Regions from separate parts of the Homo sapiens genome. Here region 1 is linked to region 2. Evidence: fine-mapped expression QTL. Tissue or cell type: fibroblasts. Region 2 holds a variant in brackets; the other region holds the start of a gene. All regions are shown on one strand. Distances are between the middles of the regions.

Region 1 (15,798 bases), 35 kb after region 2:
ACAGTTGGGTCTGACCACTTGTTAAGTTGTACCCAGAACTTAGGTCTTTCTCGCTCTCCACGTTCCCTATCAAGGCCATCTTTTCAATACCAAACAAATTAGAAAGAATACAATCAGCTAACTTACACTAACATACTAACAAATGGGACAACAGTCTTCAAGGTCTGGAAGAGGAGAGCAGAGAACTCATCATTGCCTGCTCAAGCCCATCTACCAGGAGGGGAAACTCCAGATACTGTGGGCCACTTGGCACTTAGGAACTCATGGTACTGATCTGTATATTGGGCAGATATAGTTTTTTGGTGATAGTCTTAAAAATCATGTGTCACCTGTCATGACACTTGCCAGATGAAATTCTGATTTTATTTCCCAAGAGAATGCACTGACAAATTAATAATCTGACCTTTAAACGGGTGATATTTCTCCATGTCAATCAACAAGAGGCCATTCTGTTTTGTTGACCAGATAAAATACTCTTTCACTCTCTGAGGGGTTAGCGAGAGTGCATGCAGATTTCTCCAATGCTTTGCTTTTGGTTGGAAGCAGAAACATTTAAATTTCAAGGCAACACTTTTCCTAATTCCTACTGAACTCAAAAGCTCTAGTGGTTCAGTGATCCCATTGGTAACAAATACTTAGAGGGCCAGAGTCCTTCTGGGTCCTATCCTTACGCTCCTGTTCTCTCCTCCTCTCAGGCCTTTTCTGCACCATGCAAACCCAGCACCTCTTCTCACAGGCTGGGCTAAAGGCAGAATGCAATACCATGACTGAGGAGCCTGGGAATGAGGCAATTCATTAACAGAACATTCCCCAGGAAACATAATTTTCTGATCATAATCTCTTTGTTCCTGACAGTTGCAAAATTAAATACCAGAGCCAAAAAAAAGTGAGGCACCGTTTTAAGGGTATGTTTTCCTAATTCGATCTTCAAAGGAAGCACAAGCTTAGGGTTCGAAATCATTATGATGTAATATTATGCCACATAATAATACATAGATCCAATCATTTTACCAGATAACCGTCAATATAAAGCACTGACAGGACATTTGGGACTTCGGGTCAACAGGAAGGTGGTTTTTCAAACTAAACTATATTATTTATGGCTTTGATTGTCATTTACTTTTACAACATAAGGGTGATGGTAATTCTGCTCTTCTGCCAATAAATCTAAAAATTAATTGAAAATGTAGTCAAAATCCTTGGCACACTTTAGAAGGAAGATTTTTTTAATTAAAAAAGCCATATTAATCATTATATAAATGAGTTATATTAGTCCTGTAAAATTAAATCTATGGTGGAAAGGAAGTCAGTGAGTGATATAATCGGATTTCAGAACACATATCATATAAAAAGTTATGTTTCTAAATAAAGTGAGTGTGAAAGAATTCAGGATATATTATCAGTCATCTGAGTTACTGCCCTAAGACAGCCCTTCTCCCAAAACAGATATGGTTTCTCTGACAAAGAAGATAAGTGTGCCTTCTCATATTTTTATTATTTTCTTAACTGTCAGACATAACTCATATGTAGTTAAGTTGCTCAGAAGGTTAAATTCGGAGGAAAAATTCTACAAGTGGTTTAAATGAGCCAAATCATTTTTGGTTGCGTCATGTTTCCTCCGTTGAAAAAGTCTCGATGACTTAAAAAGGATTGCTTTGATACTTAGCTTAGTGTTTTACCCAAAAAGCATACTGACCAAAAACAAACAAACAAAAAACCCATAACAAAACAAACATTTAAAGATATGTAGACCAGATCAGTTTTCTCCTGATGAAAGTCACATGGAACCACACGCAGGTTACCTTGCTTTCAGCAGGTCCCTTTCCTTGGGTGTGAATTTTATTTGTTACAATAACCGACTTGGCCTAGTTACTCAGCCATCCTTCGTTCACTCTTGGTAGTGGACATGGCAAGATGGTGGGTAAAAACACGTAAACAAGACTGCTCTCTCGTGGAGGTCACTTTCACATGGAAAGACTGGACACGTCAAAACACTTCATTAACATGATATAAAAATAATACAACATGTAAAGTGGTATCGGCGCATCTAAGACAAAGCGATTCAATGTTAAATCCCTCTTTGGGAAATAATTTAAGATTGCAGAAAATGTTTCTGAGAAATTCCAATGTAAACGTCCTTAAAAGTCCCTACTTTTTAGTATTTGGTATTATACTTATAGATTTTGTGATTTTCCAGATTTTTCATTAAAAGTTAATATGCATAAAACTCTTGGGATGGTAGCAAGTACAGAGTGAAATCTATATAAATTATTATTATTATCAATATCTTTTGGAGTGAACAAATTGAACATTTTTTGAATAATCTTTTGCGTAGTTGACTGAATACTAGTTAATAGGTTTCTATTGTTTTCTTGAGTTAAATCAGAAGCAGATATTTTGATTGACTGTGTAAGGTCTTGCAGCTTCTATGGTTTTTTTTAACTTGAAAAGGTCTTCCCAGACTGATACCTCTTTCTGTCTTGAACTCTCTGTTCAACTATATTCTAAAGCCTTAAAATGAAGATCTTCAATTTTATAACTCTGGATTTAAACTTTTCTTTCTTATTCTTTTTTATTTTACAAAAGAAAATTTTAACTCTTTAGGTTGATTATATTTCTTGATGAATGTGACTGTACCAAGAGGCTTTAAAAAAATTGAGATTAGAAATCAGTTTTTCTTATCTTCTGAATTATTCACCATATGATGTGTTGCATTTGAGCTTTATCTATGCTTCTGGTAATATTTCTGTCTTATATAATTGTTAAAGTATAATGCTTCTCACCAGGAAGACTATATATATATATATGTTTAATAATAGCCTTTTTAAATTTTCATGTGTTTTTTCTTCTCCTTTGTTTTCTGATTTTTAAAAAATCAGAAAAATGTCTGAATTGTCACTTTATCTGTAGATTCAAAGAGCACTTTCTAATCATGTGTTGGCATTAGCACAACACCGGGGAAGATCTGATTGCTGTAAGCCGTTCATTCATTCAGCAAATACTGACTGAATATGCAGTATGTTGACCTGTTTGCTGAGGGCCTCTCTGTTCCGGCTGCCATTCTAAAGCGAGTCAAGTTTTCCCTGTAACTTTTATTCTGCAGAAGTAACCTGTACCTTTTTCCATTCTCTTGCCATTCACCACTCTCCTGACCTCCCTTTGCGTAAACTGGTTTAAGCCTGGCGCTCTAGGTCCATCCAACAACACCGGTCTATTCACACTGTAGCAGAGCAACCAAGCAGTTATACAATTTTCATCTTAACTACTAGTAATACTATGCTATAAAAATTTTGAAACCTAGATTTTGAGATATTGAGCAAACTAAAATATGTAGTATTTACTATAGTGCAAGAATACGTCTGACGGGTTAAATGCACGCGTTTTGGAAAGTGCTCAAACCCTTCACCAGATGACACAGTTATAGCACAACAACAGCTGAGGTTATTGTTATCTAATCTCCTTTCCCTCGTTAACTTTAGCACAGAGAACTGAAATAATTGGGTGTGAAGGCATCTTGATAATCTACCAAAAAGGCTCATTTTTAAGCAGCCAAGCGTTGCTCTCTTAAACTTTTGTTGTTTAGTAGCATAAAGTGTAGGCAACCTGTATGAAGTATAAATATCTGGTATTAAAAAGACCCAGTGAGGCAGAAGTCGCTGACTCCTCTCAATAGGTGGAAGAGGATTCTCCATGCAGCCGAAGGCTTAATGAAGCACATTTCCACCAGCCAGGCTGCTGCCTCTGTGGTGTTACCTCTTCAGAGGACTCAGTGCCTCTGAGAAGCTGGCTGTCCTCAGCGAGAAGTAAGTACAGGGACTTCTGTTTAGAGGAGACTAGAATGAATATTTATACTAATAAATTTTCTCCAACATAGCCAAAATCTCATTTGAATATGTTTTTCTTTCTGTGCATTTAAAACACTTGCCATTCTTCATGGCATCCCATGCTTGTACTCTTAGAGGATCTTCACGAGTGGCACAGCTCTTGGCTAGAATCCTATTTTTTTTTTTTTTTTTTTTTTTTTTTTTTTTTTTTTTTGAGACGGAGTCTCGCTCTGTCGCCCAGGCTGGAGTGCAGTGGCGGGATCTCGGCTCACTGCAAGCTCCTCCTCCCGGGTTCACGCCATTCTCCTGCCTCAGCCTCCCGAGTAGCTGGGACTACAGGCGCCCGCCACTACGCCCGGCTAATTTTTTGTATTTTTTAGTAGAGACGGGGTTTCACCGTTTTAGCCGGGATGGTCTCGATCTCCTGACCTCGTGATCCGCCCGCCTCGGCCTCCCAAAGTGCTGGGATTACAGGCGTGAGCCACCGCGCCCGGCCTAGAATCCTGTTTTTGCTATAGTTTGTTGGACTCCTTGCGGCTAATCCTTGCAGCTATATTAGTCTCTGAGGGATGCTGAATTGAATAGAACATCAGAAGATTTGGAGCCTGACGGGTTTATGTTGCCCCTGTCCTCAAATTCAACTATTCCAGAAAAAATGTACTAGGACAAGGAACCTGAAAAGAAGAACTATTTCTAACAATGGATTGGATGAACTCTCCCATTCAAAGCAGAGGATATAATTCATTATAAGACTTGTAATTTACTTTAACCACTGGGAAAACATCTCAGAGGGAAGAGAGAAAAACTGAATTTCTGATTAAATTTAAAAAATCAAAAATTTAATAAGTAGGCAACCGTATAAATGAACAGAAAAAAACAAAATATCACCGAAACTTTCAGATAATGTTCTTTGTTAAAAATAAGTTTCCCTAAATTATAATATGAATATATAAAGAGAAATTAGAAAATATAATGAGAACATTACCAGGCCTTTTTGTTTTCTTTCTTTTTTATTGTGTTTTTGTTTTTTTGAGGTGGGAAAATCTTTGAAAGTAAGACCCTTGATTGGATTCAGGAAAGTGAAAGCTTTCTGAATTTTTGCTCAAATAATGCTTCTCTAAGGTACAGAATTTAATGCTGAATTTATGTCTACCTCACCTGTATAGGGAAGAGGAAACCACTGCTTTTTTGGCCAAAATTCCTACTTGGTAAACTAGTATATTTCCGTTTTGAAGACCAAGGTGCAGTGAAGTGTGGTGGAGTTCCATATGGATCTGTTATGCTGCAAACACCAAAGTAAAAACCCGTCTTTGCTGGTTCCCCGTCATTTATTCAGCAAATATCATCTTAATTGAACTTAAGCTGAAACGTGAGTTCTTATTTGCCAATACTCAGAACTCAACAGTTGCAGAAGTGTTTCCTTTTAACTGCATGTCCATGTCTTGAGTTTTTCAGAAATAATACAGAAAAACATATTTTGAAAACATATTTATCTGTATTTTTCCACGTGACAGTGGCAGTTTAGGATTTAACAGGCATATCCATAATTAAATTGTTAGTTTGAGGAACTTCCAGAAAATTATCTAATGCAATCATATATCACAAGTCTTCTTTATAAAATACAAGTGCAACTCATTTCATTATGCTATCCATGTAGTTAGACATAACTGAGACCTTTAAAAATATTATAAATGACTTAAAATAGAAAATGTTAGAAACAGTACAGGCATATTACAAAATCATGGTTTCTGAAATCTAATTACTATATGCAATTTAAAATAATTAAACATGATTAGTCTTTAAGATGAATAGAACCAATTCCAACTTTAGCTATTATTTAATTATAGCATGCTGTACATTAAAATCAGCTGGAAGATAGCCAAAATAAGCTTTAAAGGACAGCATGATAATTAAGAATTGCTATTTATCTTACTTTTATTAGAAAACTCAATGCTGGAATGAATGCAATAATGTCAAGAAATATGAATTTAAATAATTTCCTAAATATTTTACTTTCTAATCCCAAATATCAGGATATTTTAAACTTCCTCATCAATTCTACTTTATATACAAAAATTCATACAGTATTAATTAGAACTTTTGCTTTCAACACAGATATCTTAAAGACAAGGAATTATGTATTTATAACTTCTTAATAAAACTATGGGTACATTCTTATTTTTGATTGTGGCAGTTTTTTCATAAAAAGGCTACTGAAATCAGGCTTATTTAAAAAATACTAATAATGTTATCTAATATAGAACAGAGGGTAGGAAGTCTCTGTAAACAAACCTATATCTATATCAAGAGTGATTCTAAGAGAATATTCTCTCCCTTACCCAGGTACTCAAGTTGTAGGGTAACATAACTAGTGTAACGTAACTAGTGATTTCCAGTCACCTTTTAGGTTTACTTAGGAACATTAAAAGAAATGCTGCCATTGTAGACTTCATTTCAATTATTTAATCTCTTTCCAGTTCACGACCTTTACTTTCTTCTGGTTTCAGCAAGAAAAACAACTTCATAAGTGTCTTACATTATAATCGGCTACTAATCATCATCAACTCAACATTAGTTTTAAACAGTCTGATTCCATAACAAATTTGTAATAGGGATATTTTCTATACATTTTATAATAGCCATGGATAGAAAAATAGTATTATTTATATACTAAAACATTCAAGTTGTTTTGTTTAAAACATACATTGTAAAATTTTCCCTCGGGAAATTTGGATTTATTATAGGACAGTTGTAGCTTTTATGAAATTGGGATCCTGAAGCCATATTTTCAAATCAGAAAAATGAAAGCCTCATTGTTGTTTTTCAAATGTTTTAAGTTTCCTTGATAAAAGGCAGTATTAGGACTTCTATTTCTAGGTCAAGTCTATATTTACAGTAACTAATAGGAAAATATTGAAGTCTGAGGTTACCAGTACAATGTCTGAATGCAAAATTCTGGACACTGGACAAAGTACTTTAGAATCAGAGGCCAGCAAAGCTCTGGAAGGCTGTGAACAGGGACAAATGCAATATGGTTCAGCAGACAGAAAGTCAGAAGTAAGATTCAGATGTAGCCAAGCAGGGTGGGGGACAGTGAGGGGGGATGTCTAGCTGGACTTGAAGGGCGTATGAAAGCAGCTGTCCTTGCAGGGGAGATTTAAAGGAAATGACTCTTCAGGGGGCACTGCATTTGCAAAAAAAAAAAAAAAAAAAAAAAAAAATCTGATATAGTATGTTTTGGAAATTCCAAAATATTTGATATTGCCAGCAGAAGAGTTGGAAAGTGGCAGAAAATAAGGGTCTAAAAATAGCCATAAGCGAAAGTGCAAAGTCTTGAAGGATAGAGATTATGTCTCTGAACCTGGTTCTCAAAATTGTTGAATTATTAACTATGGAGATGCGCTGTACAGAATTGAACTTAAAATGGTCATCTGTGTATAGCATGTCATCTTAAAAGGTTACTAAAATAGGAAAGAACTTGCACAGGTATAAAGTGTGTGCCATTCCTCCCGTGGGCTAAGGGTCTTGTCTCACTTGGTGCCACTATCAATGCAACAGGCACAGCAGTCGGGTGTGCCCTGGATATTTCTACACCTCATTCTTCTAAAAGCTCCCCCAAGAAAAATTAATAGGAAATCAGGTGCTTGCTGCAGGTCTTTGCACTGTGTCAATTCTAAGAAATCCTTTGGCAGTGTAAAGCTTTGAAGGAAATTAAATTGGAGAGAGATTTTCTCTACCTTTCATTCAGCTCATATAGAATCCCTTACTTAGCTGATATTTTTGCTCATAGAATTGGACTCAGAACTAAGTCTGTTCATTTAGCTTTCCTTTGAATGTTAAACATAATGAAGTACAAGGCCGTCACCTCACCATTTTATCCCCTACAACCCGCATAGGCGTACACTTATCACCAAACGTTTGCACATGTTTGGCTCCACTGAGATTCTTAGTCTCTATCTTTATATTTTGACTATTTTGACATTTAGAACAAAAGTTTGGAAAACTATTCTCCTACTGCTTTAGCATTCTCTTATCTTAGGGCTTATGAACATTGCTACATCTCTGAAACAGGCGGTTCCTGCCCATATCTATCAGTGAAAATTATACTTAAAATTCTGAAGAGACTCATGTCATCCAGATTTTGGAGGAAAAAGGTAGCAAATAAAAATATACTTCTTAGAAGTAGATCTCAGTTACTACTTATTTTAAATTTCACAGTAGATTCCATCTTTTGTAGATAGGGGTTTTGTTCAAAGTTTTTGACCAAACATTTTTATTAAATATTTTCAATAGTATTATAAGTGATCTGACATTTTTGGTAACAAAACAACCAAAGAACTGACTTGAGTAAAGCTGAAATGTTGCTGAACCAGAATCTAATCCTTACTCCGTCATTTTCTTACCAGGGATTTTGATTTGACTGACCAGTTTCAATCCACAGTAACAGCTTTGTTCCTAAGAGACTATAAATCAAGGAAATACTCACTACCAGGCAATTCCTCCTGCAATTCGGGGTCTGTGCTGTTATTATGAAGCAACTGACAGCAAACATTTGCTGCAAGTATGAGCGCAGATTTGGATGAGGTGTGCGGTGTTTTTGGTTTCACTCTTTATCTCTGAAACCTATCTGCTTGTGAGAAAAATTGTGCAAGAAAAGAAGTTTTACTGCCACATACCTCAGCTGTCCTAGAACTCAATGCAGAGGCTTCGCTTCCTTTCTTTCCTTGGATTCTGAGCCGGGGGAGCACAATGGGGGTCTTGTGCTCTGGGCCAGCAAGGCATGCAGATACTCGGAAAGGAGGTGTGAACGGCTTCCAATACCTACACTGTTTGCTTTACAACTACCCCAACTAAATCAAACAGGACACCAAGACACTCAGTCCAGGGTAAGCAAGTACAAAATCCACTGGCTATTATGACCCACATAGAGAACAGAATTCTTCAATTTAAGTGTGTACATAGCTGTGTTAAGAGTTAAATAAATCATTTACGAGGCTTAAAAAGAAATGCTTCTCATGTAGTTCTTTTTCATGTAGTTCTCTGAATACAAGTCAAAGTGCAGGTCACGAAAGAATCCATTGTTCACAAGCGAGAAATGTTGTTGGCTGTGAGGACGGTTCAGAACAAGCCATCGTAGTCTGCTCAAACAGTAAATATTGGTTTTAAAACCCCAAAGCATATCGGTCATGTTTTTTATCTTCCAATTGCTAGAACCAAAATTCACTGAAACAACTCTATGTCTCTGATACTATTTTCTAGAAATGTGTGTGTATGCGTGTGTGTATGTGTCTGTGTATGTTTGTTTGGTAAATCCAAATCACACAATCAACGTAAATCTTTCAGGCTAAGTTTTGCCCCAGTTATTTTTATGCTGTGCTTTCAAAAAGGTCAAAAAAGCTTACCTCTGTCAGTGTACTGGGACGCTCAGGAAGCCCCTTCTCCGCCTCGGCCTCAGCGTGCAGACATATGCCCTGGGAGCCCACAATCTGTTAACAGGAAGCAGGTAAACCCGAGAGCGTCCGCCTGCGTTCCAGTCCAGTGCCCGTCCCAGCACACACCTGCTTTTTCAGACCTGCCGCTCATATGCCACAGCCACGCACAGGACCAGCGTTAGCAGAGTGCAACACCCTCCGTTTGGATCCCTCGTTTTCAGGGTAAGCAGCTAGGGAGCTGCTGAGATAATATTGCAGGGAAAGCTTGCCTTCCCAAGACAAAAACCTTTGCTGCTGCCTGATAGCAGATATGCAGCATTATCACTCTGCATTCCACATTCTCCAATCAGCTAATTGGAACGGCAGTCAACAGCCTGTCCAAAAGGCAGCTTGCAGGCCTGCGTGGCTGTGATCATTGTATACTAACATGCCCATTGCTTCTCTCTTCCCTGAAGAGATGTATAAAAGAGGCTTCTTCCAGGGCGAAGCTCAGCAGAATATGCCACACTGTTTTCCATAAGTAAAATGGCTGGTCCTCTCAGCTCTGCTGCAGACAGCTCATTGGGTTCCACTGGCTTTTCGTAGCCATAGCAACAACCAACAGACAGACTTAGCAAGCATGGCTGATCATGTGCAGCACACTCACACAGCTTGTTAATTTCTTTTCATCAAACTCATCATTTTTTTGAGGAGGGTAGCTTCTGTTATCTTTCTACACATTTCACCGATAGTGCAAGTGCTCCGATTTTTCTGCTCTCCTGAAGAACTCTTTTTTATATGAGCCGGGGCTATGTATGAAATCGAGGAAGTGAAGCCCTATTAGTGGCTATCCAGGTTAATAACATGCAAATCACTTAAGAGACCCTAACTGGAAGCATTGTCAAAACAAGCCCCACCTTCCAGTCATAGAATGAGTGCAGAGAGCTGCAAACGGGAGAGTTACACTTTTTGTTTTTAAATGATAATCTTAGAGCCACTTAATTGAAACAAAACCCTGTGAATTGCTATATAGGGTCAGAATAATAACTAAATCAGGTAGACTATTTTAATAAGATCTTTAAATATCCATTTACTTATGGCTCAACTTATCTGATTACTTTAAGATGCTTTTTATGCAATTTAAAATAGAATTTTTAAAAAATCCTATTGCTTCTACGGCAGAAAATGATTCTTTAACTCAATCTTATTTGTAAATTAAAAATTCTTTTTAAAAAATCCGCACCTAATTAAAAATTCTTTGACTTTAAACATTACCTTCAAGGCAAGAATAGTTTTACTTCCTCAGTAAAATGGATCACATTCCACCCGTCCATAACATTTCACCTCCTCTGGGAATCTACCATGATTAATGCCATGAACAACGTAAATCTTCTGCAGAACCCCCAGGCTTTTCTTCTTTTTCAGGACTCTATCACCAGTCATATTCTATCTGATATATTTCCAAGGCACTGTCCCATTTATTTTTGTTTCTAGCAATCTGTTTCAAATAGTTATGTTAACACTTTGGACTTGTAAATATAGATGTTCTATTTGCTAAGTAGTCATTGATTTAGGATTCCGTCAGTATTGCGTTTCCCTACCCATGTTAACACTCCTGCCTTCAGTATTAATTCCCAAATTTTGACTGCATAGGAATCCTGTGGATGTAGATTTGGGGATGCCCGCTCCCCTTCCTCCCCAACCGGATTCACATTAGGTAGGTCTGAGCCACCCAGGGTCAGCGTATCCATGGAGGACAAGTGGGTGGCGCTTTCCTGCTTGGGAGAGTCCTCACCGCTTCAGATCGCCTCCAGCCAGCCTACCTTTTCTCACTGAAGTTCCCTTCCCTGAAGTTATTTTGCATTTGCTGTTGCTGAGCGTGCCCCTGCCTTCGCCCTCAGCCTCCCATTCTACTATTCACTGCCCACGTTTCAGAATCCTGCATTACACACCATTTCCTTGCCCTGCAGATGCTGCTACTATTAAAAACCTTCTCAATCTGACTGCTCCTCGCCCCAGCACCTTTAACCTCCATCCCAATCTGCCTCCTCTTTTATCTTCCAACACCTGGCCCAAATGGACCACCTCACTCATGACTCTCCCAGGTGGGGTCTGAGCGACCTCTTCTGCGACTCCCCTGTACCGGGGTCCACCTCTGCTATTACAGGCCTTGTCACGCCCTGGGACTTCTTAGCAGTTCTCCTTTTATGTCTGACTCCCAGACTGTTCTATCAACTCTCTGGAAGCCAATCTGGTCCATGTCTTCTTTGCCCTCCATGCTTGGAATATTCTAATTTCTCAATGCCTCTAAATGAGGACCTACGACACTGTATGAATAGGGACTGATGACTGGCTGGTGTGAAATCTGTGTTTTAATTTACTTTTCAACATCACACATTTGTTGACTCATCACTTCAGAAGAACTTCAGTGATTTTGACAAAATGCTGGCATGTTACAAAAGGATATCAAGAAAACTCTAGGTGCACTTGATGTTTTAGGGTGGCTTTTCTTTTCATTGTATCTCTGAAAATGTCTTTATACCCTCACACTTGATTGATTGGTTGGCAAGGCATAAGAATCTCTGGCCGTGGCTCACACCTTTATTCCCAGCACTTTGGGAGGCTGAGGCAGGTGGATCACTTGAGCCCAGGATTTGAGACCAGTCTAGGCAACAGACTGCATCTCTACAAAAAAAAAAAAAATCAAACAAACAAACAATTAGCCAGGCATGGTGGTGCACGCCTGTGGTCCCAGCTACTCGGGAGGCTGAGGAAGGAGGAATGTTTGAGCCTGGGAGGTCGAGGCTGCAGTGAGCTGTGATCACATGACTGCATTCCAGCTTGGCAACAGAGGGAGACTCTGTCTCTGTTTTTAGTAGCAAAACAAACAAACAAACAAACAAACAAATATCTGAAGTCATTTTCCTTTGGAATTTCAAAGGCCTTCATCCTTCTTCTTGTATCTCCTCCTCCCCTATACCTCCAATTCCTGCTCCTCCAAAGAGAACTGGAAGTCCCCCAGTTTGCACTGAACCGGAACTGGGAAGCTGGCAGGAACTGAGATGAATCCCTTTCCCCTCTTTGCCCCGTGGCACGTCTCCCGGCATCTCTACTGGCCTTCACACATCACTCTGCTGCCAGTCTGTTCTTCCAAGGCTCTTGGCTCCTTCGCCTGCTCGAAGCCCCTCCCTTGTAACTTGGTGCACTGAGGCCCATTGGCATTGCTCTGACCTCAGGCCCTGCCCTAGCCCAGGTCCCTGACGTTTATTCTCCTTCCAAACGTGTTTGTTTTAAAATGTGCTAGATACAGATTTCCAAGAGACAAATCTGATTTTTCCAGCCCATCTTTCTGAGTCAAGTGAGATACCACCTATGTGGCCAGCAGCTTTATACATGGGCTGCCCTGTGCCTTGGTCCAATCAGCTATGACAAGGACACTTGGCATTATCTAGTTTTAAAATTTTGCTAATATAATAGGTGCAGAGTAATGGCCCATTATTGTTTGAATGTGTGTTTCTCTAATTACTGACAAATTGAACATCTTTTCATTGTTGATGGTTTTCAGGGTTCCCTCTTCTGTAAATTTTCTGTTCATAGCTTTTGCCTGTTTTCTCTATTGAGATTGTTGTCTTAGTGTGGAATTTTAAACAACGTGGTCATAAAGGTATTTTTTATATATATTTAAACATTATAATTAAATTTGTTATATTATTAAAGGTTATTAAGATATCCACTAACATATAAAGGGAACCCTATAATTCACACTGCTAGTTGTTTTGGTTTTTATTATGAAATGAAAATACAGAATGTGTGTGAAAATCTCCATTCAGAAATTATGTTCAGTATGAAAGCGTAGAATACCACACCATAATATGATTTTCTAAGACAAATATTTGTTTAGAAGGATTTTCAAACAAATATATTATCATCAAAGAATACATATACACACACATATATATGCTCTAATAGTATACGCACACACATATATATGGAGAGAGAGAGAGAGCTATCTATCTATCTAGCTTCTATTTTAAGTTATACCGTATGCACACCTACACATCAATCAATCTACCTATCTATCATCTGTGTATCATCTATGGAAGGCAAACACAAATGTGCAAAATGCTAACACCTGATGAATCTTAAATGAGAATATTTTCAGTTTATTTTACTATTCTTTGCACTTTTCTATAAGTTTGATTTGTTTTCAAGATACAAAGTTTTAAAAAATGAAATAAAATGAGAATAAAAATAGTGTTTAGAATAGACACAGAGTTAAGGTTAAGATTAGTTGATGAAGACATAACTATTTATCAGAGTTGAAACTAAAGAAGTTAATAAGTTATGGAGTAACTAAAGTGATTACTACCATTACTGTTACTCTGAGGAGGCTACTCTGGTAGAGAGTATTGGAAACATTTTGCACTTTCTTGAAACAAGTTTGCTATTTCCCTACATTTACTGCTTCCCTGTATTCTGATCTTAAACCATTTATCCTCTGGTTCGTATTTTGAAATCCTTATTAGTCTGTTTCCTTAATTCAACAAAATCATCACTGCTTGAAGCAATAGGTTCTTCTCTAGTCACATCTTCTGCTGCAGACTCCACAGCTGGGACCCACCAAAGGATCTGGTCCCTGGCACAACAAAGAAACACGTCATATGACTTAACTTAGAGACTGGAATTGAAGCATGGTTTATGAGGTAGCAAAGACTTTTGTAAAGCTTAGATTGAATTTTCTAATTCCTAAAACAAATAAAATAGAATATCCCAAAGGTTATTCCAAAACCTTGCATATTTAGTTACTCTCACAATGACGTGAACAATGTCAAAATAGGACATTGATGGGAAATGTGACAACTGACTTAGGAGGAGGATTGAAGTATCTCAGTCAAACAAATTGGATTTATTTCTATGATTCCAACCCCAAGAAATATATGCTGGAAAGCAGACTGACCCACAGGCTACTAATCAAATGCGTTCATATCCCCTGAAGAAGTATGACCCTGATCAGTATCCAGAATGACTTTTATAAATCAGAGGTGCCCAAAACCAAAACAAACCCAGCAGAGTTGAGGGTTTTTGGAAATTCACTTATCAAATGAATTTAAAATGAGAAAATGATTATAGAAGAACAAAACCTTGCCAGAGAGCAAATGATAAGAACGTAAACATCAGCAATAAAAAACCGTTCAACAAACTGGAGAGAAAGCCAAACCTATTAACACAAAAACACTGTGTGTAGCCCATTAGTTGTTCCTAGAACCCCCTAGAAATTCTGTATACTCTCTAGGTTAAGAGGAATAAGGAAAATGTGGCAAGAGGTACAGGAAGAAGTTTCAGCTAGTCCTAAGTCTGGAGAGCCCGGTCTTTACTGGCTAATAATAACAACATTGTTTTAAATATTTCAGGTTTATCAAGCTTTGGGTTTGCAAATGACTATGATTGCAGCAGCTTACAGGAACTACTTTATCGTAAAATGTGTGTTAATATGTGTCAGTACCAGGTGGGGAAAAAATAATGGTGTTATCCAATAATAACAAAAGAAAAAAAAAACCACCCACAATTAACCCCCTCCCACAGCCCTGTTAACCAGTCCCAAACATATAAATACATCTTGCTGTAGCTAGAGAAAAGTACTCCTGGCTTTTATTAAACCTGCAGTGGGGAGAGATTCTGCAAGCAATACAGAAAAGGCTGCACTTGCTCCCAAGGAATTTGACTGTTTATACTTCATAATGATAAGCTTAAAAAGCGACCTGGAAAGAGAGGGCTGGCTGCTTTCATGCTCCTGTGAGGGGCCACACTTTGTTCTTGGAGAGGCACTCTGACCACATTAATAGAGTGTAGCTCCCATGACCTTTCCCACTTAGCATTGTGTCCTGTGGCAGCAGTGGCCCCCAGGTACTTCCGGGCAACGTGCCACCCTACCCAGTGCAGAAAAAGCACTGGGCTCTGCCGTCACGGCATTGTTGAATTAGTAACGAAACGCACCAGGCTCAGCAAACAAAACCTGGCAAGAAGGATTTTAAAACAAATGCTTCTGGTTTCACCTGAGCCACTGAAACAAATTAGAAGGTGCTGGGTGAAACTGGGCAGCTTCCGTAAACTCTGAAGAAGATCATGCTAAAGCCCTCAGCTGCCAAATGTGCAAATCTCAAAAGAAGTGAAAATTAGAGGGTCACCTTGTGTCTTCTAGAAGTGCTTCTGAAATACATGTTCAGTAAGATTCATTGGTCAAGATAATAAGATGGGCCCAAGTGATGTATTAATACAATCAGGTACACGTTTTAGGATCCAACGGTCCAACAACAAGTGGAAAATACTGTTGAAAAATAAAAATCCCCAATCCGCACTGGAAATAGTAGATGTTCAGTTAAAGGCCTGACAGTGACAGCACGTGCAGGTAGGAAAAATAAACTATGCGTGCTTGCAGAATATTGGATGGGAGCTATAACCCAGAATGGTAATTATTTTACTAAGCCTACCCAGGTCAGAATTCAGTGCCTATGTGTTTGTTTGTTTGTTTGTTTTTGAGATGGAGTCTCGCTCTGTCGTCCAGG
Region 2 (15,798 bases):
TTCTAATATCAAGCTGGTCTTTAAAATTTTTTTTAAACTGTGTCAATTTCCTAACTCGATTCTTTTCGGTATGCCGACAGGTTATTTCAACCAGCCTCGTCCTAACATTTGGCTCATTATACTATTGGCACATTCATGTCTTTCTCTGTAATCTTCACCTCCCGTGCTTGTTTTTCTCTCAGTGAAGTACAGAAAGCCAAAACTTAGGATTTGAAATGTCGTCTTCACTGCCTGGACCAATGGTTTTCTTGTTTTATTGAAAATGAAAGAGCTGGCCGGGCGCGGTGGCTCAGGCCTGTAATCCCAGCACTTTGGGAGGCCGAGGCGGGCGGATCACGAGGTCAGGAGATCGAGACCAGCCTGGCTAACACACGGTGAAACCCCGTCTCTACTAAAAATACAAAAAATTAGCCGGGCGTGGTGGCGGGCGCCTGTAGTTCCAGTTACTCGGGAGGCTGAGGCAGGGGAATGGCGTGAACCCGGGAGGCGGAGCTTGCAGTGAGCCGAGATCGCGCCCCTGCACTCCAGCCTGGGCGACAGAGTGAGACTCTGTCTCAAAAAAAAAAAAAAAAAAAAGAGAAAGAAAATGAAAGAGCTATGCATTTGGTGAAATAATAAAAACACAACCTTTCATCTCTGATAATACTGAGCATTAAATAAAATTATAGGTGCAATTATTTTACAGGTAAGTTTTACTTTCTAGGACAAAGTCTAGATACACAGGGCAGTACTGACTGCCCCGAGGCCTCGGTCTCTGCACCAATTGGTCTCATCTTATTTCAAGTGCTCTCGTCTTTGTCCTCCTCTTCTCAGTTACATCTGTGTAACAGGGTCTGTCCAGCGTTTCATTTCTCTAATCACCTTGAACATTGCTCAGCAGTATTACTAACACATGAGCCTGATGGTGAGACTTTTGTTCTCAATAAATAAACACAAACTCAATGCACCTTCCCAGGGGCTTTGCATGGGACCTAAATATTCTTTGAGTCCTGAGTTTTCTCTCCTCTGAATCTTTGCTGTCCATCACCTTCTGCCATTTGAATACCCTCTTATCCAAACCAAAATCCTAATTCCAGTACAGCTTTTCCTTTGTGATAATACCACTGATTTTCTAGTACAATATACGCCCAGCTCCCAATTCCAGCTCTGAGCTCCTAGAGTTCTGGGGGACTTCACATTGCCCATCTTCTTTTGCAGAGTGTTATATCCAGGTGTATGTGCCCAGCTCTCCTACCAGACTGTTCATCTGCCTGTGGCACGGCTCCTTGCACACAGTACGTACAAGGCTTGGTAACAGAATCCCATGTTCATTGAAGGGCCTAGACTGATCACATTTTAAATAATGCACAATGTTCTCACGTCTATTTAAGGAAGAAACAACTGATTTCTATCTTTTAAGATTGCATTTCAAGACCATATCAAAGGCTTTGAATCTCTCACCAAGACTAACAATGAAAAACAAATTTGGCCAAGTGCAGTGGCTCACACCTGTAATCCCAGCATCTTGGAAGGCCGAGGTGGGTGGATCACTTGAGGTCTGGACTATGAGACCAGCCTGGCAGCCTGGGCAACATGGCAAAACCCCATCTCTTCTAAAAGCACAAAAATTAGCTTGCGTGGTGACACGTGCCTGTAATCCCAGCTACTCAGGAGGGTGAGGCACGAGAATCACTTGAACCTGGGAGGCGGAGGTTGCAGTGAGCCAAGATTGCACCACAGCACTCCAGCTTGGGCAACAGAGTGAGACTCTGTCTCAAAAAAAAAAAAACAAAAAAACAAAAAAAAATGCAAATTTGATCATATTTAATTGAATTTGTTTCAAAGTAAGGGAAAGGGGAGTATGCAAGGGCGACATGTGGCCTGTTCTTCTGAAAAAGCAAGAAAGGTTATCTTTATACACCAGATCAAGGTATTGACAGCTACAGAGTGAAATTCCATACACAAAAAGAAAATTTTCTTCAAGTGAAAAAAGTAAGTGGCCAATAAGGTCACATTCAAAAATTAAAAATGGATGCCCTGGTCTTGATTACTGATACCATTTTTCAATAAAAGTAACCAGAGCTCCTTGAAGAAATAATTGATTTTAGGACTAGGACATGAAATGTACAAAATGATGCGGGAGCATCTTGTAGTACCAGGGAAAAAAAAAAGTCAACCCTTAGCATGAAGGTGTAAGTCAAAGGCACATGGGAGACTGGAGATGCATTTTGGATTTCAGATTTTTTCAGATTTTGGAATATTTGCATATCCATCCTGCGTCATCTTGGGGACAGGACCCAGATCCAAATGTGAAATTCGCTTATGTTATATGTAGTGTATCCAAATAGCCTGAAGGTAATTTTATACAGCGTTTTTAATAATTTTGTGCATAAAATGAAGTTTGTGTACACTGAACCGTCAGAAAGCAAAGGCATCAATATCTCAGCCACCCACATGGAAAATCTGGTGTTGTTTGGCATCACCATCATTCCTGACTGAATTTATTTGCTACCAATAAGCAATCATTTTCCTGCTCTTACTCAGACGTGAGTACTTAACAGTAGAAAATACTACTATTTTTGTTTTTGAAAGAGTCTTGCTCTTGTTGCCCAGGCTGGAGTGCAATGACACCATCTCGGCTCACGGCAACCTGTGCCTCCCGGGTTCAAGCAATTCTCCTGCCTCAGCCTCCTGAGTAGCTGGGATTACAGGCATGCACCACCATGCCCGGCTAATTTTGTATTTTTAATAGAGATGGGGTTTCTCCATGTTGGTCAGGCTAGTCTCGAACTCCCGACCTCAGGTGATCCACCCGCCTTGGCCTCCGAAAGTGCTGGGATTGTAGGCGTGAGCCACTGTGCCCAGCCTAATACTACTATTTTTTAAACAGTAAAGATACATCCTATTAATACAGTGAAAAATAATGTGTTTAGGTAACTGGGCAGCACAGGAAAAAGACCGTTTTCCTTTCTCAGCTGTTAGACAACAGCAGCAACAAACAATGCAGGCTTTCAGTTGCCACCTATGATGCTGTGTTTGGAGTAAAGGGCACTGTACACTGTATTTTTTTTCTTTTTTAGGTGATAAGAAACATCTGAAGCAGTTGACAGATCATGAAGCGGGTCCTCTGAGAAATGAGAGGCATTCTGCCGGATGGCATTTTTTTTTTTTTTTGAGACGAAGTCTCACCCTGTCACCCAGGCTAGAGTGCAGTGGCACGATCTCGGCTCACTGCAACCTCCGCCTCCCAGTTTCAAGTGATTCTCCTGCCTCAGCCTCCCGAGTAGGATGGCTTTTAAAATGTTTTCTCCAGCGTCATCTGCCTCATTAACAGCGATTTTTGTCTTAGAAGTCTCTCTTTGAGTTTCTAAATGGACATGACTGCTTATTCTGTTAGGAATGCACTCCACTCTAGTCCTTCAATTAGCCCATCACATTGTCACTGTGGCATCTGTATGCACATTTTCTGCCGTGTTAATGTCATCTTCATTGTCCAATTGTGGCATCATGTTGGTGCTCAAAACGTTGCAGATTTTGGAACATTTTGGATTTCGGACTTTTAGAGTAGAGATGCTCAGGCTCTACTACTTCTTATTTCAGAGAAAAACATAATATCCAAATAACTAATAAAAACTTGGTTGGAGAATGCAGACTTCTAGAAATGACTGTTTAATCTGCTTATGATAAATAATCCTCTTTGCTCTACTGCAAAGGGGAGACTACTGCTGTTACTGTTTTGTGTCATCATGTCCTGATCAGACAAACACTGATTTAAAAAAAAAATAAAACAAGTACATTGTATATGTAAATTTAGACTGTAATAATATATCCTTGAGAAATAAATATTATATGGACTCCATTTTTCTCTGACAGTCAATTAAGCACAAAAAGATTTTTAAAGCACTGATTTTTGCATTCTTAAATGACAAATGAAGTCTTCTTGAAATAAGATTTTTAATGATTTAGAGAAATATTTGCACATACACTAGCTTGGTGTTGATTCTCAATTTTTAATTTTTTTTTAATCCTTTCCCTGGCATTTTCATCGTTTCCTTTTTTTTTTTTTTTTTTTTTTGAGACAGAGTTTCACTCTTGTTGCCCAGGCTGGAGTGCAATGGTGGGATCTTGGCTCACTGCACCCTCCGCCTCCCAGGTTCAAGCTATTCTCCCACTTCAGCCTCCCAAGTAGCTGGGATTATAGGTGTGCACCACCATGCCTGGCTAATTTTGCATTTTTTTTTTTTTTTTAGTAGAGATGGGGTTTCACCATTTTGGTCAGGCTGGTCTTGAACTCCTGATCTCAAGTGATCCACCTGCCTCGGCCTCCCAACGTGCTGGGGTTATAGGCGTGAGCCACCACGCCAAGCCTATCCTTCCCCTTTTTCTGTTTTGTTATGGATGATGAATGTCTTAAAACTACTGAACTCCTTATACCTTGATATGGTTAGTGAGAGCTTCCTTGTGGGATGGTTCTGAATGATTTTCTCTAGAACCTCCATTTGAACATCTTCCTTTCCTCTGCTCACTGTACCAGTCTGGGGCTATCAAATCACATATGCTGATAAATGCTACACTATGACTGGTGAAGCCAGTGCTAAAAAGCAGCTTCTACATATGGCACTTCCAAATTGTGTTATTGCTAGCTTTTCCAGTGCTTTCTCTACTAGGGCATCCACTGCATGTCACCTGCTAAAATGCAAACCACATCTTTAATGAAAGTCTGTTTTATTGAATATATAAGTGACTATGAAATTTCAAAATGAAATTTGATGGCAATTTAATTTTATAATAAATCTATATCTATGTATCTCACCAAAGATAGCCTAAATCTTTAGTGAGGCCACACATTCATTTTTATGAAAATTCTTCACATGAGTTTAGAAATCTCCCAACTAAGAAAAGGACAAGTCAGATCTTAGTGTCCTGGGTGGCTTAGCATTTCATAACTGCCAGAGAACCATGAGGACCTTCCTGGGACTGACTCATGGGAGTTATCTGCAATGATTTTATGTTTCCCAATGGGTCATATTTTCATTGGAGATTATTTACTATGCCTGGAATCCTAATGCTTGGTGTCTCTAATGAGAAAAATAATACAAAAAAATTCAATATTCAGCCAACACAAATTTATATGATCTACAAAAGAAAGGAATGTTTTCAGATCCTGGGCTTGATTATTTTTGTTTTCGATGTGACAGATTTGCTGAACAAAGCTTACAAATCTCCCTTTTCCTCTCTGCTCGCTACTACCCCGACCCAGAAAACACACACACACCCCTTCCCAACCGGGGACCATCTGACCGTTCACACCCACATCAACTCTGGGTCGCCATGCTTTTCTGAGGGACATTGCCTTCACTGAGAGCTCCTTTATTCTCAGTATACCTTACATTCCCAGCCACAGTACTGAACTTCTCAATGCTTGCAATGTTCCCTTGGAGTATATCAGTTGAGCAGGCGGAAAAAAAATATCTGGAAGTTTATTATTTTTCCACCAATATATTTGACACCACCTTTGGAGAGGGAACAAAAGGCATACTGTCAAGCGGATAGACCTGGACAAAATGTTACTGTTTGTTCCTCACGAGCACAGAGGTATATTTAAGCAAAGAAAGGCATTCCACGGCTCTCCCGGGACTTCCTTCCTTCAGCTGAATTATACCAACATGTTCACACCACTGAGGGCCAGGCTGCTGGAATTTAAAACGCAGACCTCTATCTGCCAGTGCTTCGATCCCACGGCTACAAACATTCACATTAGGATTGAACCTGGCTTTCAAACATCATGAGATAAATGGGAGTTTACTGGGGGAAAACGTGTGCCCTCATGAAACTATAGTAGAAGATGCGGAAATAGGACTGTCCCTGTTCAGCAGATTCTATACTAATACAATAAAGCCTCAAAGTCACCAGAAGTCACCTGGCCTTGGGTTATGTTTCAAATCCAGGCTCACTGACATTCATGAAACCTTTGGCAACACAGGCCAAGTTTCGTGCAAGGCTGGGTAGAATACTTCTTTCATGTGGAAGCTGGGTGAAACTCGGTGGCTTTGGCTAGCTTTCACCTGAAGTTTCACATTCAAACAATCCAAAGTTTCAACGTAAAATTCAGGGGTGAAGAGAAACAGAAAGAAAAAAAAAACAAAACAAAACAGGGGGAAAATGGCTTGCCTGGGAATGGAATGATCACCTACCATTCTCCAAAAAGATTTCATCCTGGTGCCATTTAATTTTGCCGCTGGACTATCACCTCTAGCAATATATTTGCACTCAGCCCTGCAGACCAAGGCTTCCCAGTACTAAGGGAGAGTGAGTATTCTAGCTAGACGCACCCCATCCCCCCAACAAAGCCCAGGCTCAAAATAACGGGAGGATTTAAAATGGTAACCATACACATAAATGCGATGATTGACATGCTTCTTATAATGTAGATTTGAAGGGGAAAAGTGGCAATGAAATGCCCAGGTTTGGGAAACTTAAAGATTAGACTGAACATCTCTAGGTTTTTCTACTATAAATCCAAGTTCTGGAGATTCGATTGCATCTGCTCCTAATCCAGGGAGATCTCTGCCGTAGCTTTCTCCACAGCTCCGCCCCTTTGGAGATTTGTCCTGTGGCCACTTGCGTTTGTCCTTCTTAGCAAGGTGCAGAGGACGGGGCAGACTGCGTCAGCGCTGAGGAGCTAGCGTCCTTGACTGGGACTTAAACAGTCTCCTGACAGGATTAGGCTCATTCTACTCCTAACCTTCAACAGAACACGCAGGGACCGTTTGCCAGGGAACGTCAAACTCTGTATTTGGCTGAGGACTGTGAAAATACCTTGTGCTTGGGGTGGGAAAGAAGAAGGGAACAAATGTCACACACACCTGTGCTTTCTTCACAATGAAGAGAATATTCCAAAGCTGATTGAATGGCTAGTAAGTGCTACATTTTGCCCATTTTAGGAAATACATTTTTAAGAAATCCCTTATCCCTTACACAGCAGAAGTTTCACTCGTAAAACAGACTTCTGGCTACTAAGGTTTTTTTTTTTTTTCCAGTTTTCTTTTGATTCTAATTTTCTTTTTCTTTGTTATTTCTTCCCGTTTTTGTTACTCAGACGATCCTTATGTGGTTAAAATGCATGCTTTCCTTTGATATGTGCTCTGTGATACCAATAAACTTTTCTGAAAAAAAAGTATTTCTGAACTCCAAAGATTTCAGCATCCATGTTTTTAAAAAGCACCAGTTGGGCCCCAAGGCACACGGAGATTCTGAGGCAGCAGGGCAGCCAGCGCGGGGCTCTGTGCACTCTCATTTGCTGCTTGCTCTTACACATCTGCCAGACAGGGGCCATGAACTGTCCTGAAGTCTGTGTTGGGGAGAACTTTACCAGAGAACACTTTTCTTACAATTGGGGGTCCCTCTAGAAGTGAAATCTAAGACAGATCAGTGAGGAAAACTAAAGCTCCAATAAATTGTTTAAAGGAAATGCTATGAAAGCATTAAACCAAAAGGAAAAAAAAGGAGACTTTTTACTGAGCATAGTAAATAGCCACAATCAAAGTAAATGCTGTGTTTGAAGTTAAAGTCCACAGATCAAAGTACTTCGCAAAATGTCAAGTGCAAGCGTAACGAGGGGGAGAGGGGAGCCACAGAAACTGACCCGAAGTATCACATTGTCACGTTAGAGAAACCTGCCAGCAGATGTACCCAGCAAAAGACAGTCAGCTTAGTAAGGAATCCTCAACACTGTCCCCTAAAATGTGCTAGGAACATACAAAACAACAATAACAAAAACAAAACCCCCAGATTCCCCCAAATCAACCACTCTAATTCCACACGAGCAATGAACGAAACAGTGATGAAAGGAGAACATTATACAATACGGCTCGCTCATTGCCCTTAAAGAACAATTACTTATATATATTATCTTTACTCAGGTGGATGGTTGCATCTTTTTCCTCTTTTTTTTTTTTTAATGCCCCTGGAAAGTTAAAAATAAAGCAGTCTAAACAACAAAAATATGATGTCTGAAACATCCTCTCATTGCTCTGGCAATCAGGCTTAATTAGACCTCTGATCCATGGCTTAGTCATAGTCAAGCGTGTACTGC[A/C]GGTCACTATTATGAGAGCTTTAAGCAAAGTTTAAAACTTACAGCCACAAAAATGCCCAGATGCTCCTGCTGTATTCTGGAACACCGTGTTTACCTGAAAATTGTTCACAACTCCCCTTATTATTTTCACTATAAGTAAGTTATTTTAAAGACATTAGTTATGAACATACCAGAAAACAATTAAATAATTCCAGAATAAAAAATCTTACCTACAGGCAGCTGAGTTCAACAGTTGCTCTATACAGAGGAAGTAGGAGTCAGTGGCCTTTTACATGTAGAGATTGTTTATTTAGCCCTTTTTAAAAGGTCTTGAACTCCAGAGGTTTAAGATTAAGTCCAATCCAAGTGTCTGAAGGAAAAAAAGCAAGAGAGAGGCAAATGAGAGAGGGAAAGAATCCCAGCTGCTGGGTGGTGCTACTGTTCTGAGAGCATTTGAGCTATTTTCAGCATTAACAGCAGCCGGGGTTGTCTGCAAAGGGATGAAAATGCCTTGCCCAGATCGCCACCCCCCACTCCAGGGGGGAGAAAACACCAACCAGGAAACCCACAACGACTTGGTTCATTGTGCAAATATTCATTTAAATTTTGAGGAAAACTGCCAGCACCATTGAAAACAAAACAAACCCAAAGTTGACTGGAATCTTAAAGAAACACAGTGCTCCTCAAGTTTTCAAAATGAATTACCTGATTCACTGAAAACGAGATGTCCTACTTATGCTTTATTGAGAAGGAGGCTTTTCTTCTGATATTTCCTAGGGGGTCTTAAGAAATAGTTGAGAGCCCTCTGGTAGCAGTATCTGTTGTCAGTCTATTCTTAAGACTGAAGACAAATGATTTCTTAAAAGAGCCCGCACCTAAATTTCCAGTTTCATCAACTATGCTATTTTTGAAAGCTACTGGGTTAAGCGTTGACATCTCTTATCTATTGGCAGAGACTGGGGACCATTCAGTGACATGAGGCAGACAAACAGTGACCCCTGCTTCTGCCTCCACAGGCCAATGAAGAAATCATTCTGGTTGGGTCACTGGCAATGACTGACAAACTTTGAGCCTTCATTTTGTTTCTAGAAATAAAAATTAAGAAGTCGTATTCATTCATTCATTCAGCAAATATTTATTTGGTGAGCACTTCAGAGCTTACTATAAGCCAAGCACTCTGGGAATACAGTGGTGGGCAGAATGAAGTGTCCTTGCCTTCAGGGGTTTAGAGCACACAGATGCAGTGAGAATAAATAAAAACAGAATTTTTAAATATTTTCCAGACTTTTTCACATGATGAGACTATTCACATCATGGCAGCTGAAGACTGAGATCTCTTTCTATTGTGGATGAAGGAAGATACTGTGTGTCATCAGACCAACTTCAGGCTTCCATTGAGTCATTGTGCCTTTACACCACCACCAGGGAGGAAAATTACTTACTTTCTACCAAGGAAGCAGTTAAGTATGTTTATGAACGCTTTCATTCCAATAGATGAAATCCCTGGTTTTTTTCAACCCCCTACTCCCCATTACAAAAAGAATGCTTAAGTAGTCAGAAAGTACTGCTGAGAGGCTTTCCATCGGGAGATGAAAAGAGAGTCTTCAACCTGAATTCAGTATAAAAAACTGCCGGTGGCTCAGGCCCGTAATCCAGCACTTTGGGAGGCTGAGGCAGGTGGATCATGAGGTCAGGAGATCTAGACCATCCTGGCTAACATGGTGAAACCCCATCTCTAAAAAAAATGCAAAAAATTAGCAGGATGTCGTGGCACGCGCCTGTAGTCCCAGCTACTTGGGAGGCTGAGGCAGGAGAATCGCTTGAAGCCGGGAGGTGGAGGTTGCGGTGAGCTGAGATCGCACCAGTGCACTCCAGCCTGGGCAACAGAGTGAGACTCCATCTCAAAAAAAAAAAAAAAAAATGCCCTGATATATTTTATAATTAATGTGAGGGTTGGTTGCTAGATGCTTATATCAAATTCAAATTCAATTCTTTCTTTGCCATTAAAGAAAGACACTGAAATAGATTATGGAAAATACTGAGGATTATGCCATGTGAAAAAAAAGGGTTACATGACTACTACTTCAAGTACTATTTAAAAACAGTGAAATCCTTTGGCTCAATAGACCTTATATTAAAACTGTATTTCAAATTAAAAAATTATAAATTAACTTTGAAATCTCTAATCTGAATTTTATAAATAAGATCAACTTTGTTTTAAAAATGTATACCAGGCTTTAAAAAATGACTCTAGAATAAAGCATTTTTCTTTTCACTTATTTTAAATGGTTACATTTTACTATGTCTTAAATACCTGCCAATCTAACATGGGATATTTGTTTCTCTTGGCCTCAATGTGGAATGGTAATTCTACTGGTAATAATTGGAAGCCTAGCTGCAGACAGACACATTTTTTAATTGTTTTTTTCTTTTTCCTCCTTATAATAGTTTATACCAAAAAAGGGTATAATGCATTTAAATATTGGCTTTCCTTGAGAAGCTATGGCATTAAGGAAACAAAGATCAACATAACCCACTCTCGTATAAAACAGGGATAATAATGAGTTGTCATAGGGCTCATAGGAATAATGCACAGAAAATGCTTACCTGGGTAATGTCTGACACACAGCAAGCATTTGGTGAAAGTCAGTACCATCATCTCTGCTGTAAGTGTAAAGCTTTGCTCTCCAAATATGGTGGCTACATGTGGCTACTGAGCTCAATGCGGCTAGTCAGAACTGAGATGTCATATAAGTGTAAAATGCATGCTAGATTTTGAGGTCTTTATACAAAAAAAAAAGGTGAATGATGAGAAATTACTCAGTGGGTACGATGTTCATTATTCAGGTGATGGACACATTCATTAAATCCGTGACTTTACCACTATGCAGTCCATCCATGTAACAAAATTCTCCTTGTACCCCACAAATTTGTACAAATAAAAATAGATTAATGTTGTCTCTTCCTAAAACATGTAAACTATCATATCATTTTTATATTGACCACACGTTGAAAAAAGAATGTAAATTATGACATTAATTTTTATATTATGTGTTGAAATGACAGTATTTTGGACATAGTATGTTAAATAGGATATTTTGCTAAAATTAATTTCACTTGTTTCTTTTTTACTTTTTCAAATCTGACTGCTAGCTAATTTAAAATTACCTATGTGACTTGCATTCTATTTCTACTGGGCAGTGCCATGCAGGCCAACGGTTCTCAAAAGGTAGTGAGCATCAATGACCCAGAAGCTTCGTAAAAACAGATTGCTGGGTCCACCCCAGAGCGTCTGATTCAGTAGGTCTGGCGGGGCCTGAAATTCTGCATCCCTAACAAATTCCCGGGTGATTCTTGACCTCACTTTGAAAACCGCTGGTCTTGGGCCTTGCTTCTTAAAAAAGTAGTCCACGGACCAACATTAACGTCATCACTTAGGATCTTGTTAGAAACGCAAAACCTCAGGCCCCACCCAGACCTACTGAGCCAGCATGTGCATTTTCACAACATCCCCAGGCTGCGTGTAAACATGTTGAAACTTGAGAGAAATGATATGAAGTAGTGTCTGTCATCCCTGGGTGAATATAAGGTAAACTTTTACAAACACCAGTACCCCGGCCCCGCCCCTAGAGAGTCAGATTTAATGACTCTGGATGTGACTCGAGCATCTGCATACGTGAACAGCTGATTCCAGATTAAAGCAAGCACTGAGTCCCATCAGACTGGATGTGGAAAGGCCAGGATCTAGATCATTTGTACATCATTAAGGCATAGTTGACACAGATCAAACCATATTAGAGGGTATTTACATCCCAAAAGAGGATCTTGTTAACCCCAATAACTCTACAATTGTTAGAACTGGTGAGAAAGACCCATATTTTGGAGTAGAGAGGCCTTCTGTTATTCGCTCCACCTCTGTTCCGGCCTTAAATAAACGAGCACGCCAACTTTAAGAGTGTGTCTGAATAACCTCATTAGTTTGCCGAATGACTTCTCACATTTTCAGGCGGCACCTGAGCGTTGTGTGTTTCACAGAGCTTGGTAAAAATAAAATCCTCACTGTAAGAGAGAATCTGGGCTCACGCTGGTAACATTTAAAACTTCCAATTCTATATGCAAAGACCATCTGCAGCTTTGCTTCTCACTTTCTTGGTTGAACCTTTCAGAAAACTTTTAAAAGTGCATAATACTTAAGAGTAGAGTCTGGAGTCAGGGTGCCTGGGTTCGAATCCTCATCCTGCCACTTACGCGTGGCTGTGGCTGTAGGTCACTTACTTAGCCTCCCCATACCTCGGTTTCCTCCTCTGTAATGAGACCTTTTTTTATTGGGTTGTTGTGAGGGTGAAAATTGTTATTTGAAACAGCCATGGAAAAATCTGCTGCTTTGTAAATTTTATATGAATGTTGGTTAAATAATCAAAATATATTTGAAAAACTGTGCAGATTTCCATATGTGGCTAAATTTAGTAATTTTTAAAAGATACTGTGGTGATTTCCAAGGACTTTCATGGGCGTGAGTTTTTGAACACATATATTTAGAGGGTTTCTCTGAGTGTTGTTTTACATTTTTTTCCCAAGACAGCACAGAATTCTCAATTGATTCCTCATCGCTTCCTATTATTTGAGAGGATCCCAGTAGGAAGGAAGTAAATGTAGTTTTCCCATGAGTATTGTTTTCTAGAGAACATTCTTTACCCCTGCAGTCCTTTGAAGAGTGAGTTGTGCTATAGATGTTTAGAGACCTCCCTGGTCCCTGTCATTCTAGTGGCATTGTCTAGTATCCCAGGAGAACAATGTGTCATTCTCTTAGTCAAATATTTTAGTGCTTAGGGCGAGGCAGCAAGACCATCTGAAACACTGGCGTGAGTTTCAAAGACATATTGAAACAGCAGTCAGATTCTCCTATAGAAATCAGCTAATGCTGACTAAAAGAAGGGATGGGGATGAACAGGGAAGTGCTGAAGTCACGCACATTGTAAGCAAAATGAAGGCTAGACTAAGTAGAGTAACATTTTTTTTTTTTTTTTTTTTTTTTTGAGACGGAGTTTTGCTCTTGTTGCCCAGGCTGGAGTGCAATAGCACAATCTCGGCTCACCGCAACCTCTACCTCCCAGGTTCAAGTAATTCTCCTGCCTCAGCCTCCCGAATAGCTGGGATTACAGGCATGCATCACCACACCCGGTTAATTTTGTGTTTTTAGTAGAGATGGGGTTTTTCCATGTTGGTCAGGCTGGTCTCAAGCTCCTGACCTCAGGTGATCCACGCACCTCAGCCTCCCAAAGTGCTGGGATTACAGGCGTGAGCCACTGCACCTGGCCTGGAGTAACACCTTTTATGCTTGTCTGCTTCAACCACACTCAATGAAGTGAAGCATATGCAAGAAAAATAAGGATACCTGGTAGCTCTGGGCACGTAGCAAGCATCCGTCGGGTCATCTACAGGAACCTCACCCATGGTATGCCACCTGCTGAACAATGTAATGCATGCATCGGGCTGGAAACTAAAGCCCATACATTGAGTGACTTTAGACCAGTCATGCAAGCTCCCTACACTTGTGTCCTGAAAGGCAGATAGAGGCATGGGACTGCAACTGCCTTACTGACTCTTAAACCTATGCTTTCTCTTGGGCTTATCTGGATTACATTCGGCAGTCTGCCATGATTTACGCCTTTTTGCAGCACTGTTTGAAAGGAGTCAAATCATACGTCCAATGACTTCTACTGCCTGGTTATTGATGTTAAGTAAATACTTTTTAGTAGGCGATTTGTCATCACATGTGTCATTTTGCCATCTGGGTTGAGGTTTATCAAGTGAGGTGAAAATCTTAACAAAAGGTTAAAGGACCAGTATCATTGAAAGAGATTATATAGAAATAACTTCTTAAAACCTCTGTTAGAAGCTCAATTTTCTAGTTGAAACTTTGTTTCATTTATTTATTTTTATTTATTCATTTATTTTTGAGATGGAGTTTCACTCTGTCACCCAGGCTGGAGTGCAATGGGGTGATCTCGGCTCACTGCAACCTCCACCTCCTGGGTTCAAGCGATTCTCCTGCCTCAGCCTCCCAAGTAACTGGGATTACAGACATGCGCCACCACACCTGGCTAATTTTTGTATTTTTAGTAGAGACGGGTTTCACCATGTTGGTCAGGTTGGTCTCGAACTCCTAACCTCAGGTGATCCTCCTGCCTCAGCCTCCCAAAGTGCTGAAATTACAGGCATGAGCCACGGCGCCCAGCCTGAAACTTTGTTTTAAACTGGCTGCCTGAATTCTTTGTGTATTTAAAGAGCACCTCTGCTGTTTATGTAACCATGACTTAGCTTTTCTTGTTATTTCTATTCCATTTGAAATTGAGCATATGCAACAGTCGCTAAATCTGCTATGAAAATTGTGAAGCCTTCTCCATGTGGCCCACTGAAGGCCCTGCACGATCTGGTGTTCTGCAGCATTTCTGCCCAGATCTCCACCACCTTCCTCCCAGTGCCATTGCCTCCAGCCTCTCTAGCCTCCCTTCCATTGCCTCCCGCCTCTCCAGCCTCCCTTCCATTGCCTCCAGCCTCTCCAGCCTCCCTTCCATTGCCTCTGGCCCCTCCAGCCTCCCTTCCCTTGCCTCCGGCCCCTCCAGCCTCCCTTCCATTGCCTCCGGCCTCTCCAGCGTCCCTTCCATTGCCTCCGGCCTCTCCAGCCTCCCTTCCATTGCCTCCGGCCTCTCCAGCCTCCCTTCCATTCCTGGACTGTGCCTCATCCAGGGCCCTGGCTTGCCTGGCTCAATGTGATGGGAATGCCTTCCCTGCCCAGTGGCGAATGCCATGCAGCCTCCAGCTTTCACGTGTCTCTTCCTCAGGAAGGACTTCCCTGCTCCACCAGCGTAGCCCCGCCACCCCCTTTTTTTAACTCGTAAAGAATCACCTTCCTCATTCCTTCTAAATTCAGGTTCAGTTGCTTGAATTTGTTGGAGTAATTGATCGGAGCCCCTCTCCTCCACTAGCCTATCAGCTCCCGCTTGCCCCTCACATGACTTACATTCCTCCCGCAGGTACTGCATTCTGCCTGGCCCTAAGTAGGGGCCAATACGTAGTTGCTGAATAAGTAAATGATTAAATAAGTTCTGCCGAAGGCATTAAGCAACACAAGAGTACATTTTTTGGTTCTATATTTATCAGAACTTGTGAAATAAAAAGTATCTGATCATGTAAAAAGCAAAACATTATGTATTCTAATTAAGCAGCTGTTTCCAACCAAGACGATTCTCTGAAACATTGCTTTGTAGCTACATATTTGGTTTAGAAGCTGTCTTAAGAGGCAGGTGCCACTTGCTTTTCCCTTCAGGATATAATATGTTCTGTTATCTTAATTTGCATTTATTCTAAAATAGATTTCAATAAAACAAGTTACTTGCATTCATATATCATATTCCTAGACCTTTTTCACAACCATGTGATACTCTACTAGGGTAGAGTGAGGTCCCTGATAAACATTTCTTCTGATTAGGGTTATTGAGAGAATTATGTATTTGTCTATATATTGCCTGGCAGTTATACCACCTGAAACCATATGTGATTATTTATAATGTAGTTTTATGAGCAGACAGGCAGATATAAAGTAACACATCAACCATGCCACCTGGTCAGGCCATAGTCATTCCAATGGTATGAAACTCTTTCTTGTGGCCATATTATGCATAAGTTATAAACAGACAATGAATGGTCACTGACTGAGAAGACTGGAGATTTGCAATCTTATT

Direction of the effects. Alleles are on the strand shown, and positions count from the first base shown. SD is a standard deviation of normalised expression in the study named.
For the expression in fibroblasts of the gene that starts at base 9,757 in region 1, allele A in region 2 goes with a lower level than allele C (small effect, 0.32 SD a copy in GTEx).

What was found. PIP is the estimated chance that this variant, and not a neighbour inherited with it, causes the effect.
Region 1: it holds the start of SORBS2, and the variant in region 2 is fine-mapped to the expression of SORBS2 in fibroblasts (GTEx, PIP above 0.99).

The regions. Positions count from the first base shown.
Region 1 is chr4:185,802,438-185,818,235 of GRCh38, forward strand. It overlaps SORBS2 (sorbin and SH3 domain containing 2), which reads right to left and starts at 9,757. Exons shown (of 27, transcript NM_001395207.1): 1 at 9,227-9,757.
Region 2 is chr4:185,766,944-185,782,741 of GRCh38, forward strand. It overlaps SORBS2 (sorbin and SH3 domain containing 2), which reads right to left. Exons shown (of 27, transcript NM_001395207.1): 2 at 8,284-8,423. Among named protein-coding and RNA genes, the nearest start is that of SORBS2, 37 kb to the right of the region's middle. RefSeq lists a silencer at 8,372-8,666. The variant A/C (reference allele first, on the strand shown) is at 8,075.